Homo sapiens: one gene and its partners. The protein of the gene in region 2 purifies or fractionates together with the protein of the main gene of each other region. This does not show direct contact. Each region holds a gene or a part of one and is shown on either strand. Other genes may lie near its edges.

Region 1 (3,600 bases), on a different chromosome or scaffold from region 2:
ATCTCTTCAGACTTAATTGACTTATCTGTAAATATGAATGATGCTGCCATCACCTCAGCATTAAGAATTAACCAAGAGGATGTCTGAAAGCCCTTGTCCCATGTGCCTGGCATGCAGACAGCTCATACAGTGACCATACAGAGGCTGGAGTGTAGTGGCACAATCTTGGCTCACTGCAACTTCTGCCTCCCAGGTTCAAGCGATTCTCGCACCTCAGCCTCTGAGTAGCTGGGATTACAAGAGTGCGCCATGCCTGGCTCGTTGTATTTTTAGCAGAGAGAGTTTCATCATGTTGGCAAGGCTGGTCTTGAACTCCTGACCTCAGTGATGTGCCTGCCTCAGCCTCCCAAAGTGCTAGGATTACAGGTGTGAGCCACTGTACCCAGCCTATACTTAGTTTTTATTTATTTATTTATTTATTTTTGAGACAGAGTCTCGCTCTGTCACCCAGGCTGGAGTGCAGTGGTGCGATTTTGGGTCACTGCAACCTCCGCCTCCCGGGTTCATGCCATTCTCCTGCCTCAACCTCCCAAGTAGCTGGGATTACAGCACCTGGCTAATTTTTTGTATTTTTAGTGGAGATGGGGTTTCACCGTGTTAGCCAGAATGGTCTCGATCTCCTGACCTCGTGATCTGCCCGCCTCGGCCTCCCAAAGTACTGGGATTACAGGCATGAGCCACTGTGCCCAGCCTGCCTATACTTGGTTTTTAATGAAAGAAGTATTTTATCCTAGAGATAGGGAGTAAAAATGTCTCACTCAATTGAGGGTGGTATAAATTCACTGTTGGTGTAGTATCTTATGATATTGTCACAAAGATGCTGCATTTTAAAAGTACTGAAATAAATAGGATTATTTCTTTGTAACTTAAGGGGTACATGAAATTAAATCAAGGGTAACTAACAGGTTCCCTACTTCTGTATTACAAATTATGGTGGGTCAGCCACACACAGTGGCTCATGCCTATAATCCCAGCACTTTGGGAGACCGAGACGGGCGAATCATGAGGTCAGGAGTTTGAGACCAACCTGACCAACATGGTGAAACCCTGTCTCTACTAAAAATACAAAAATTAGCCAGGCGTGGTGGCACATGCTTGTAATCCCATATACTCAGGAGGCTGAGTCAAGAGAATCGCTTGAACCTGGGAGGCGGAGGTTGCAGTGAGCCAAGATTGTGCCACTGCACTCCAGCCTGGATGACAGAGCGAGACTCTATCTCAAAGAAAAAAAAAAAACCAACCGAACAAAAAAACCCAAATTGTAGTGGGTCAAAATTATGCCTAAATGTCCAGTGTGGTGGCTCATGCCTATAATCCCAGCAGTTTGGGAGGCCGAGGCAGGTGGATCACTTGAGGTCAGGAGTTCAAGACCAGCCTAGCCAACATGGCGAAACCCTGTCTCTACTAAAAATACAAAAAAATTAGCCAGGCATGGTGGCGTGTGCCTGTAGTCCCAGCTACTCAGGAACCTGAGGCAGGAGAGTCACTTGAACCTGGGAGGTGGTGGTTGCAGTGAGCCGAGATCATACCACTGTACTCCAACCTGGGTGACAGAGCAAGACTCTATCTAAAAAAAAATTGAAACAAAAAACCAAGGAACAAAATTATGCCTAAATAAACTTGTTTTAAGTCTCTATACATAACAATGAAGAGGGAAAAATGTGTCTTCAAAAATGAGGAGAGCCAAGAATCTGTTTTCTCTTTTTGGTCAAAGATCTGGCTGTCACATTTTAAGAACAACTGTAAGATAACTAAATATACAGCATGCCACTCCATTCCTCTGCCCCCTCAAAAGAGGAATACCGTGTATCTATGAAGAAGCCTTTGGCTTTAGCACATTCCCGGAGTTCTGAAAAGAACTCCTGGTGTGGAGGAGGGTGCTGGCGCAGCAAGGCCTGATGAGGGAAGCTCTCCCAGATCTTTTTGGCGACCCAGTGGTTGGCCAGGATCATGCATTCAGCCACTGTCTCGTGGACTTCCAGGGGCTGCTTGGGGATGAGGTCGTGAATGTTCTTTTTGTCATCTAGCTGTACGCAAACCTCTACCCCTTCCAGTTCCAGGGCACCACATCCGTCTCGTTTAGCTCTGACATGGCGAGCTATGTCGGTCAGCTTTCCAATTGCCCACACCAACTCCTCCAGCTTGGCTTGTCTGCTCTTCTCATCCAAGTCTTTGAATTCTGGAATATCATCAACAACGCTTAAGTTTCCATCCAGTAGTTCTTGGGCTGCTTCATAGAACAGTTTGTATGCTGATCGAATAATGGTTCTGCCATACCACACTTTCTTAATTTCATAAGAGGCTTTATCCAGTTCCCACATGATGCTTACAGCATACCTACAAAAACAGTAACATTGACAACATCACTATTCAAATTCATCTGGCTTTTTTTGTTTTTTGTTTTTTTGAGACAGGATCTTGCTCTGTCACCCAGGCTGGAGTGCAATGGCATGATCACTGCTCACTGCTGCCTCAATCTCCTGGACTTGAGCAATTCTCCTGCCCAAAGTGCTGCGATTACAGGTGTAAGCCACCATGCCCCACCTAAGTCTTCTATTTTTGAAGCAAGTGGAATTTGACCTAACTGTAACTTAAAAGAAATTACAAAGCTACAGGTTTCTGGTTTGTCAATCCAACCACCTTACAACTAAATCAAAAAATATTTTAAATTAAAACAACAAAGTTAGACTGGGGACTGTTGAGCTCTGAACAAATTTGAAATGAGTTCATATGTGACATTACAAACCTTACTTTATGTCCTCCATTTTTTTCTTGAGATGGAGTCTTGCTCTGTTGCCTAGGTGGGAGTGCAGTGGTGCGATCTCGGCTCACTGCAACCTACCTCTTCCTGGTTCAAGTGATTCTCCTGCCTCAGCCACCTGAGTAGCTGGGACTATAGGCGTGCACCACCATGCCTGGCTAATTTTTTCTATTTTAGTAGAGACGGGGTTTCACTGTGTTGCCCAGGCTGGCCTCAAACTCCTGAGCTCTGGCAATCCACCTGCCTTGGCCTCCCGAAGTGCTAGGATTATAGGCGTGAGCCACCGTGCCCGGCCATGTCCTCTATTTTGATTAGAAAAGCATGACACTGATAGAGTCAAGTCTTTTTAGCTCAGTAAATTAGAGCAAAGTCTTGCAAATCCTACAGGATGGCACTGAACTGTGATATCAATCTTGATGACAGATAAATTAGCAAAAATTTCATTTAGTAAAAAAACTCTTTGCCACCAAGTCATTTTATTTAAAAAAAAGGTATACATTTGGAACTCATAAAAAACATAGGGCTAATTTTCCTAATATGTAAAGAGCTTTTACAAATTAATCAGTAATTGATCTTGAATCCAAAAGAAAAATGGGCGAAGAATATAGTTAACAGAAAGGGATACATAAGTGACAAACATACGAAAAAATGGTTAGCTTTATTTGTAATGCAAATTAAAACCAATCTAAGATACCATTTTTCATCTATCAAATTGGCAAAGATAAAAAAATACAACATATTGTGTTGGCAAGGCTATAGGAAAATATGCACTCTCATACATTGGTGACAGGAATATAACTGGTGTAACATTTAAGAAGGGCAATTTGATTATATTGATC
Region 2 (3,825 bases):
TGGGTGATCTTTTTCCTTCTCCTTTGCTTCCAACGTCCAGTTGAGTCTCCCCATTTGGTGGGGGTGGACATTTAAGTTAATTTCTTTCTTCTTAGTTGCAACTCGGATATTTAGTTTGAGCCTGAGTCACCCAGTACATCATCTGGCTTATTCCAAGAGCTAAAACAACTGCTAAAATCTTTCCAATATCTGCTTGGCCAATTCACTCCACTTCTCTGAAGTTAATGTTATTACCAACCATAAAATCAAACTCTGTTCAGTAAAGATTCAAATTTTGCTAATATGCATGAAAGTGCTTGACAAACTCTAAGTTATGCTGCAATTTGTCCTCCACCCTCATTCACCCATTCATCCCTAACTCCATCCTAGCTCAACTCCATTCAAATCTTGCCCATATAATGTTTACTCTCTCTCTTTTTTTTTTTTTTTTGAGACAGGGTCTCCCTGTGTCACCAAGGCTGGAGTGCAGTGGCGCCATCTCAGCTCACTGCAGCCTTGATCTCCCAAGCTCAAGTGATCCTCCCACCTCAGCCTCCCAAGTAGCTGGGACTAAAGGTGCGTGCCACTAGGCCTGGCTAATATTTTGTATTTTTTGTAGAGATGGGGTTTCACCATGTTGCCCAGGATGGTCTCAAACACCTGGGCTTAAGCGATTTGTCTACCTCAGCCTCTCAAAGTGCTGGGACTACAGGCATGAGCCACTGCGAATGGCCTATCTTTCAAAACATTATGAATGCTTCCTTCCCTCTTTTGGAAATTCCACCTCTTTAAACATGACATGTAACAGTTTGCTACTCTCTAGAAGTAGTGCTTAGTGACAGGCATCACAGAGTACAGAGTAGTAATAAAGAGCCAGGGTTCTGGAGCCAGACTGCCTGAATTCCCGTCCTGTCTACACTACTTATTAGCTGTGTAACTTTGGGTAAATTACTTATTTCTGTTTCAGTTGCCTTAGCTGTAAGAAGAGAGTTACTGCCTGTAGTCACCTCAAAGTGTCATTATGTGAATTGCATAGGTTAATATACGCAAACCACTTCAATCATTGTCTAGTACTATAAATATTTGCCATTTTCTTGATACTGTTCCCCGTTTCAATAGCTTTCCATTGCTCACAAAATAAAGGAAAATATCTTTAATCTGGCCTCAAATTCCCTGCACGTTGTGACCATTGCCTACTCTGCAACCCCATTTCTTAGTACTTGCCTTCCAGACATACTGAATTGTCTCTAATTCTTGGAAATTTCCATGGTTTTCTTTTTCTTTCTTGCCTCTCAGACTTCTGAACTCAGTTTCTCCTAGTTTAGGACGCTGTGCCTTCCACCCTCCCAGTAACCTAGAGACTACCCTGCGAGACTCACCCTCTTCTCCCTGGAAGAAGAGGGAGTTCTGCCAGCAGACTGTCTTTGGACTTGGACTGAGTACTTCTCTGGGTCTCCAGCCTACTGGCCCACCCTGCAGATTTTAGACTTGCATCTCCACAGTCGTGTGATCCAGTTTTAAAAATACCCCCTCTCTCCATACACATATATACACATATACATCTTGTTGATTCTGTTTCTCTGAAGAACTCTACTAAAAGAAGTATTATCAAAATTAAAAAGGAGCTTGAACTCATGTAGCCTAATGCTCTTCTTTTTAAAGATGAGGAAAAGAGATATTCAGAGAAAGAAGTGAATTTACCTAAATTACCCAGCTAAGGAGTTACACTTCCCATATATCATATTTATTGCATATATAAGTAAGCAACAACTTCTCGAGAAGCTCGGTGAGTCCCCAAGGTCCCCAGCGCTTCTACCCTCACTGCACTGGGTAAGCTGTACCCTGACTGCTTCTGTGTACTCAAGCTCCCATCCGCCCGCGGGCCTCCTGAGAGAGTCGGCCTAATTCGTAAGCTGGTTCCCAGTAAACAGTGCAGAGCAGGCGCTAAGTGAATGAATGAGCACGAGAGCTGGAAGCCCTCTGAGGCCTCTCTGGTGTCCCTTGTCCGCCCGCCGCCTCGGCCCCGGCCAGGTTGGAAGGACCGGGTGCCCCTACCGCCCGGAGTGGCGCTCTCAGCGTCCCCGCACCTTCATGCGCAGTAGATTCTTGGACAACCTTGTCTTTCGCTCGGCCGCCATGGTAGCTTCCGCCCAGCGCCGCACTCCGGCCGCGAGCCTCACCGCACATGCGCGGAGCCGCGTGCGCAGCTGCGTCCCTCGCGTAGTGCGCGCCGCCCCGCCCCGCCCCTCCCCTGTGTCTTGCGCGCGGGCGCGGCCACTCAGCGGGCGCTCTGCTGACTGAGAGGCTCGGGTAAGCTCGCGGGGTGGCGGGCGCGGGGATGAGCGCGGCAGACCGCAAAAAAGCCGAAGTCAGAGGACGACCCAGAACTTGGCTTCCCCGAGCCGCGGGTCGCCTTCCCGGGACGTCGGCCTGGCCCCCTCGGAGGCCCATCCTCCCTCGGGGACTCCCTTCCTCAGGGACCCCCTCCACACTCAGTAGTCCTCGCCAGCCTCAGAGAGGTTTCCGCCACGCCTGCCACCCGCCTGGGCCGTGTTACCCACGTGTTTTGTCTTCATAACGTGGGTGGCGGGCTCCCTTTGTTCTGGGTCGCTTTGCAGGGTCCAGGTCGTTTTCTCTTCACCAGGACCCCACGAGTTGCTGCTTTCCTCACAGCAGCCCGGAGTCCCGGGGGAGCGCGGCGGGGGCCGCCCCAGGCAGGCTGGCTTCATTCCCAGGCTGCTGCCGATGCGTGTCTGGCCGAGTGATCTCTGCTAAACAGAAGAATCTCAAGAAATGGCAAGGGATGGAGGCAGGGATGGGTGCCAAAGACACATGAATGAGAACAAAGCCTGGTTTTGATCCAAAGAATTGAAAAGACCATAGCGAGGGGCAACATAGGGAGACCCCACCTCTACAAAAAAAAAAAAAAAAAAAAAAAAAAAAAAAATATATATATATATATATATATATATACACAAAAAATATACAAAATATACATACAAAAAATATATACAAAATATACAAAAAATGTACAAAAGATACAACAAAAATAGCTGGGTGTGGTGGCACGGATCTGTGGTCTCCACTACTTGGGAGGCTGAGGCTGGAGAATCACTGGAACCCGGGACGTCGAGGCTGCAGTGAGCTGACATCCCGCCACTGGACTCCAGTCTGGGCTACAGAGTGAGGCTTTGTCTCAAAAACAAAACAACAAAACAAAAAAGAATTTAAAAAACCACTGAAAATAGGGTAGCGTTCCTACCCTGGTGTTTAATGCTCTGGGTACCACCTAAACACGTTTTCGAAAACCATTCCCAGGTCCGACGCTTTGGAACACCCTCAAGCTAATAGCATCTCGGCTGATACCATGAGTTCTACGTCAGATTGTTGACCTGGTCACCTTAGGGCTAATTAGTTCACTTAATCCCCATAAGAACCGGAAAGAAGGTATTGTCATCGTGTTGTTAAGGATTCTGAGACACAGAGTGGGTAACGCACTTGGTGTTCACACAGCTAATCCATGTTAGAGCTGAAATTCAAACACCGATTTGGATGTTAAAAGCCCTTTAGGTTTTCCCAGGGGTAAATAAAATCATTGTAATGTACCAAGTGGCTACAGAATCTCATTCACTTGTGACTGTGTGTGAGATGCCGGGGGTATAATAGCGTGTAAAAACACATATCCCCACCTTTCCTGAAGCTGATATTCTGGACGTAAGTAAGTGGCGACTGCTATGAAAGAGAGAAAACAGTGATGTGACAGAGTAACGCTTAGGGTTACTTTAGACCAGGTGGTTTGGAACGGCCCTTGTCAGATGATGGTGCTAAGGCTTGAAAGTTGAGAAA
Region 3 (3,825 bases), on a different chromosome or scaffold from region 2:
GAAGTTACACAATGTGCAAAAGTGAACACAGATAGAAACGTAAAGGAGGTAAAGTGTTCCAAAAAGATCAAATGAATCAAAAAGCTCTGAAACAGACTTGGTAAAGACACCAGAGTTGTTTTTTTTTTACCCCTCCCCCCCCCACTTTAAAAGGCAGCAACCGGAATAAATCAAGATAAAAACAGAATCACAAAAATAGTGCAGGACTGTGCAGATTAAAACTTTACAATTTTCAACGTCAAACTGCAATATGATAAAGCAACAATATTACTTAAACTGTTTATGAATATTTTTTCTCTAACAATCCAAGTCAACTTCATATAAAACACAAAGTTTCTGTACCAGCAAAAATACAAATGCTAATGAAACTTGGGCTTCTAAGGTATTATTACAAATCAGACTTAACTGTCTTAGATTTCATAAGCTTAACCCAATCCACAGCACGTTAATATACCCAATGAAGCAGTCTTAAGAATAACGCTATAGTGTGACACATGGGGAATTACCAAAGAACAACTTAAAGTATACTGACACAGGGAGAAATAAGCGGTTCTGATGATTCAAAGTTACACTCGTCTCACAGACCTAGTAATGACGCTAAAGGGAACTTTAGTGACACACCCAGCGCCGACCGCCACGTTAAGGATACAGCTCTTCCGAGGTGGAGAGGGCTCTCGCCAGCTCTGACTGCTGCTGAACCCGGATCCTGCTCCTCCTCCCAGAGGAGGTCTGCACCCCGGCTTGCCTCCTCGCTCACCCACTCCTCGCCCCCGACTCCAGCGACTCCCACCCCGGTAAGGCCTGCCTCGAAAGCGGAAACGGTCCAAGGCGAGGTGGCTCCGCTCCCAGAAAGACGGCCGGGGACTGCTTTCGGACAGTGAGCTCGAAGGCATCCGTACAGAAGGCGGATGAGACCGGAACGGTTCTTTGGGTCGGTAGCTGCTGGGTCCCCTGAGGTGGCCCCGCTCAGACGCGTGCCGCGAGCGTGAGAAATTCCTCAGCTGCTGCTGAGAAGAGGACGATGACGAGGAAGAGCCACCGCCTCCGCCAGATCCACCGCCCCGGGCCGAGTGAGGAGGCCTTCGCCGCGGATAGGGTAACAGCCCGCCGCCGCTGCTGCTGCTGCTGCTCCGACTCCGTATCTGGCTGTTATTATCGTCGTCACTGATTTCCCCATCTTCAAGCTCCCCTTCTTCCTTCGGCGAGAGGCCACTGGAGGCCGGGGCCGGAGTATCTGCGGTCGCCATCCGGGGAGCAGCGCCTTCCACACAACCTTAGCCCTCCGTCCGGGGATCCGCCCGACAATTGCCTCGTTTCCCTTCTTTCCTAACGGACTGGGTCGGTGCGGTCTTACCCTACTCGGACACCAAGCGGCCTCTGCTCCCCAACTTCCCCGCACCCCAGCACCCCAGCTCTCTCTCGCCGGACCGTCGCAACCCAGTTCCCTTTCCTAGCGCCCCCTTGCTCCTCAGCGATCGGGGTTCTTCCGCCTCGCGAGAAAGGGACTCTGGTAGCGGCTGTACCCGAAACGTCACTTCCTGCGACACGCAGGAAACAAAGGCTCCCAGTTCACGCGATAATAAGACCAACTCGATACTCACTAGGATTTGTAGTCTTTCGTCTTTCTTCGGGTTTACTCTTCCGGTCCTAGGGTCACACCCACCGCAGGGTCTGGCTTGGTACAGTTGGGTGCATGCAGAAGTAGGTGGAGCTGCTGTTGCAGCCTTGAGAGAGTTTTATTGTAAAACTCTTGTAATTTATAGTAATCGGAGGGGAAAACACCTCTTCCTTTTAATTGCTCTGAGGACCGCTGCCAAAGAAACGCAGTAGATCCGCTCCCTCTTGGGGGCGGGGAGAAAGAACGGGTTGTGTCCGCCATGTTGGTGAAGTCAAGCGAAGGCGACTAGAGCTCCAGGAGGGCCAGTTCTGTGGGCTCTAGTCGGCCATATTAATAAAGAGAAAGGGAAGGCTGACCGTCCTTCGCCTCCGCCCCCACATACACACCCCTTCTTCCCACTCCGCTCTCACGACTAAGCTCTCACGATTAAGGCACGCCTGCCTCGATTGTCCAGCCTCTGCCAGAAGAAAGCTTAGCAGCCAGCGCCTCAGTAGAGACCTAAGGGCGCTGAATGAGTGGGAAAGGGAAATGCCGACCAATTGCGCTGCGGCGGGCTGTGCCACTACCTACAACAAGCACATTAACATCAGCTTCCACAGGTAACCTGGGCAGGGAGTGGGGGTGACGGAAACTGGAGTTCCTATTGTGGCTATCGCTTGTGTGGAAGGAACAGGAGGATTCTGCTAATTCTAATAACTTTCCCAGCTGGTAGCAGGGAAGCATCGTATGTCCTTTGTGTTTCTCAAATCTGCCCAATTGTTCTCTGCTTTCGGGGAAGCTTTACTCATTTTCTAAAAGAAATCCAAGTACTGTTTGGTCATTACCCCTTAGTAAAAAAAAGTAACAGGAGGATATCGTAATTTTCTACTGTTTTATTCCTCTGTTAGACCGGGCCTTGACATGAATGACGCCGTAAGGGAGAAAGAGATCTTCCCAATCAGCAATCACCGTAAAAGCCTGCTGTGTTCCCGTTAAAATTAGGAAATTCTCACTAGATGAATTGACATGGGAGGCATTTAGATTTCTAATAGTCACATAGTAATTCTGCGGAGGAATTGAGTCATCTTTGATAGCCATGGAATTAAGCGATGTTAATTAAAGTGCAAAAGATAACCTTTCTGTTCTTACTAGAATAGAGTAATAAAAAGAACCTAGGTTTTCTTTTGTTTGCTGGAAGAAAAATCAAAATTCTTTAGTTCTGTCAAACCAGAACTCTTGAAAGCACTTTGAACAATGCCTGGAAAATAACAGGTACTCTGTAAATGTTTACCTTCTCTGCAAGTGCCTGCCACGTGCCCGAAGAAAAGACACATTAAAAAGTTAAGTGACACCAGTCCTGATTTTATATATTTTATATACCTAACAACGTATATGTTAGTATGTAGAAATTATATCCTTGACCTTTTTCCCTACCTATTACGAACTGTACTTTTATTAAAAGCTGCCACTTAAAAAAAATCTTGTGATGTTTCTGTTTTTAAACTAGTTCATGCATATGTAGTGCTTTGTTCATTCATCCATCAAATATGTACGGAGTTCCTAATTACCTGACATTGTGCTAAGGATCCAGAAAGTTCTAACCCTCCTGGAATTTAGAATTTAATGGTGGAGAAAGACATAAATAATTAAGTGCCACAGAAGAAACATTCAGAGACCTAACTTAGTCTTGGAAAGTCAAAGAACACTTTTTCAAAGGATGTGACATTTCAAATGAGACCAAAGGATGACAGATTGGGTCCTGTGTGCTACTTAAGTATTTTCTGTTTTATCCTAAGAGTACTTGAGAAACCATGGAGGGTTTAAAAAAGAATGGCACGATTAGATTTGCATATTGAAAAGTCCTCTGGCTGCAGTGTAGAGAATCGTAGTGTTACTGAAAGTGCTGGTCAAGCATCATCGGGAATGAACTTGATGAGAAAGGAACTTATTACAGAATATTAATTTACCTATTTTTTTCCTTCACAGGGAAATCTTGCTACAATGTCAACTAAACTAAACCCTTTACTCAGTTGCTGGCACAATCAGCATTGAATTAGGGAATGTGTGAGCTGACAGAGAAAAACTAGTTAGGAAGCTGTAGTAAATAAAACAAGGAAAGTCCACCCAAATTTCTAGACTAGGGTGATATTAGAGTAGAAATGGAGAGGAGGGGACAGATTGGAGAAATGTTCAAGGAGAAACTACTGAATTTAGTAATTTGATTGGAT

Evidence for each region.
Region 1: the proteins of MPHOSPH6 (region 2) and DIS3L purify together in Homo sapiens (affinity purification with mass spectrometry; 3 studies listed by BioGRID and IntAct, with this or other methods). This does not show direct contact.
Region 3: the proteins of MPHOSPH6 (region 2) and ZFC3H1 purify together in Homo sapiens (affinity purification with mass spectrometry; 3 studies listed by BioGRID and IntAct, with this or other methods). This does not show direct contact.

Annotation. Positions count from the first base shown.
Region 1 is NC_000015.10:66,324,568-66,328,167, reverse strand, and holds part of DIS3L (DIS3-like exonuclease 1), read right to left. Parts: intron 2,338-3,600; coding exon 1,804-2,337; intron 1-1,803. UniProt on the Homo sapiens protein: Catalytic component of the RNA exosome complex which has 3'->5' exoribonuclease activity and participates in a multitude of cellular RNA processing and degradation events.
Region 2 is NC_000016.10:82,168,059-82,171,883, forward strand, and holds the start of MPHOSPH6 (M-phase phosphoprotein 6), read right to left. Parts: upstream 2,167-3,825; 5' UTR 2,118-2,166; coding exon 2,067-2,117; intron 1-2,066. UniProt on the Homo sapiens protein: RNA-binding protein that associates with the RNA exosome complex. Involved in the 3'-processing of the 7S pre-RNA to the mature 5.8S rRNA and play a role in recruiting the RNA exosome complex to pre-rRNA; this function may include C1D.
Region 3 is NC_000012.12:71,662,364-71,666,188, forward strand, and holds the start of ZFC3H1 (zinc finger C3H1 domain-containing protein), read right to left. Parts: upstream 1,486-3,825; 5' UTR 1,248-1,485; coding exon 650-1,247; intron 460-649; exon of another isoform or gene 1-459. Other genes in the region: THAP2 (THAP domain-containing protein 2), read left to right, coding at 2,147-2,217. UniProt on the Homo sapiens protein: Subunit of the trimeric poly(A) tail exosome targeting (PAXT) complex, a complex that directs a subset of long and polyadenylated poly(A) RNAs for exosomal degradation. The RNA exosome is fundamental for the degradation of RNA in eukaryotic nuclei.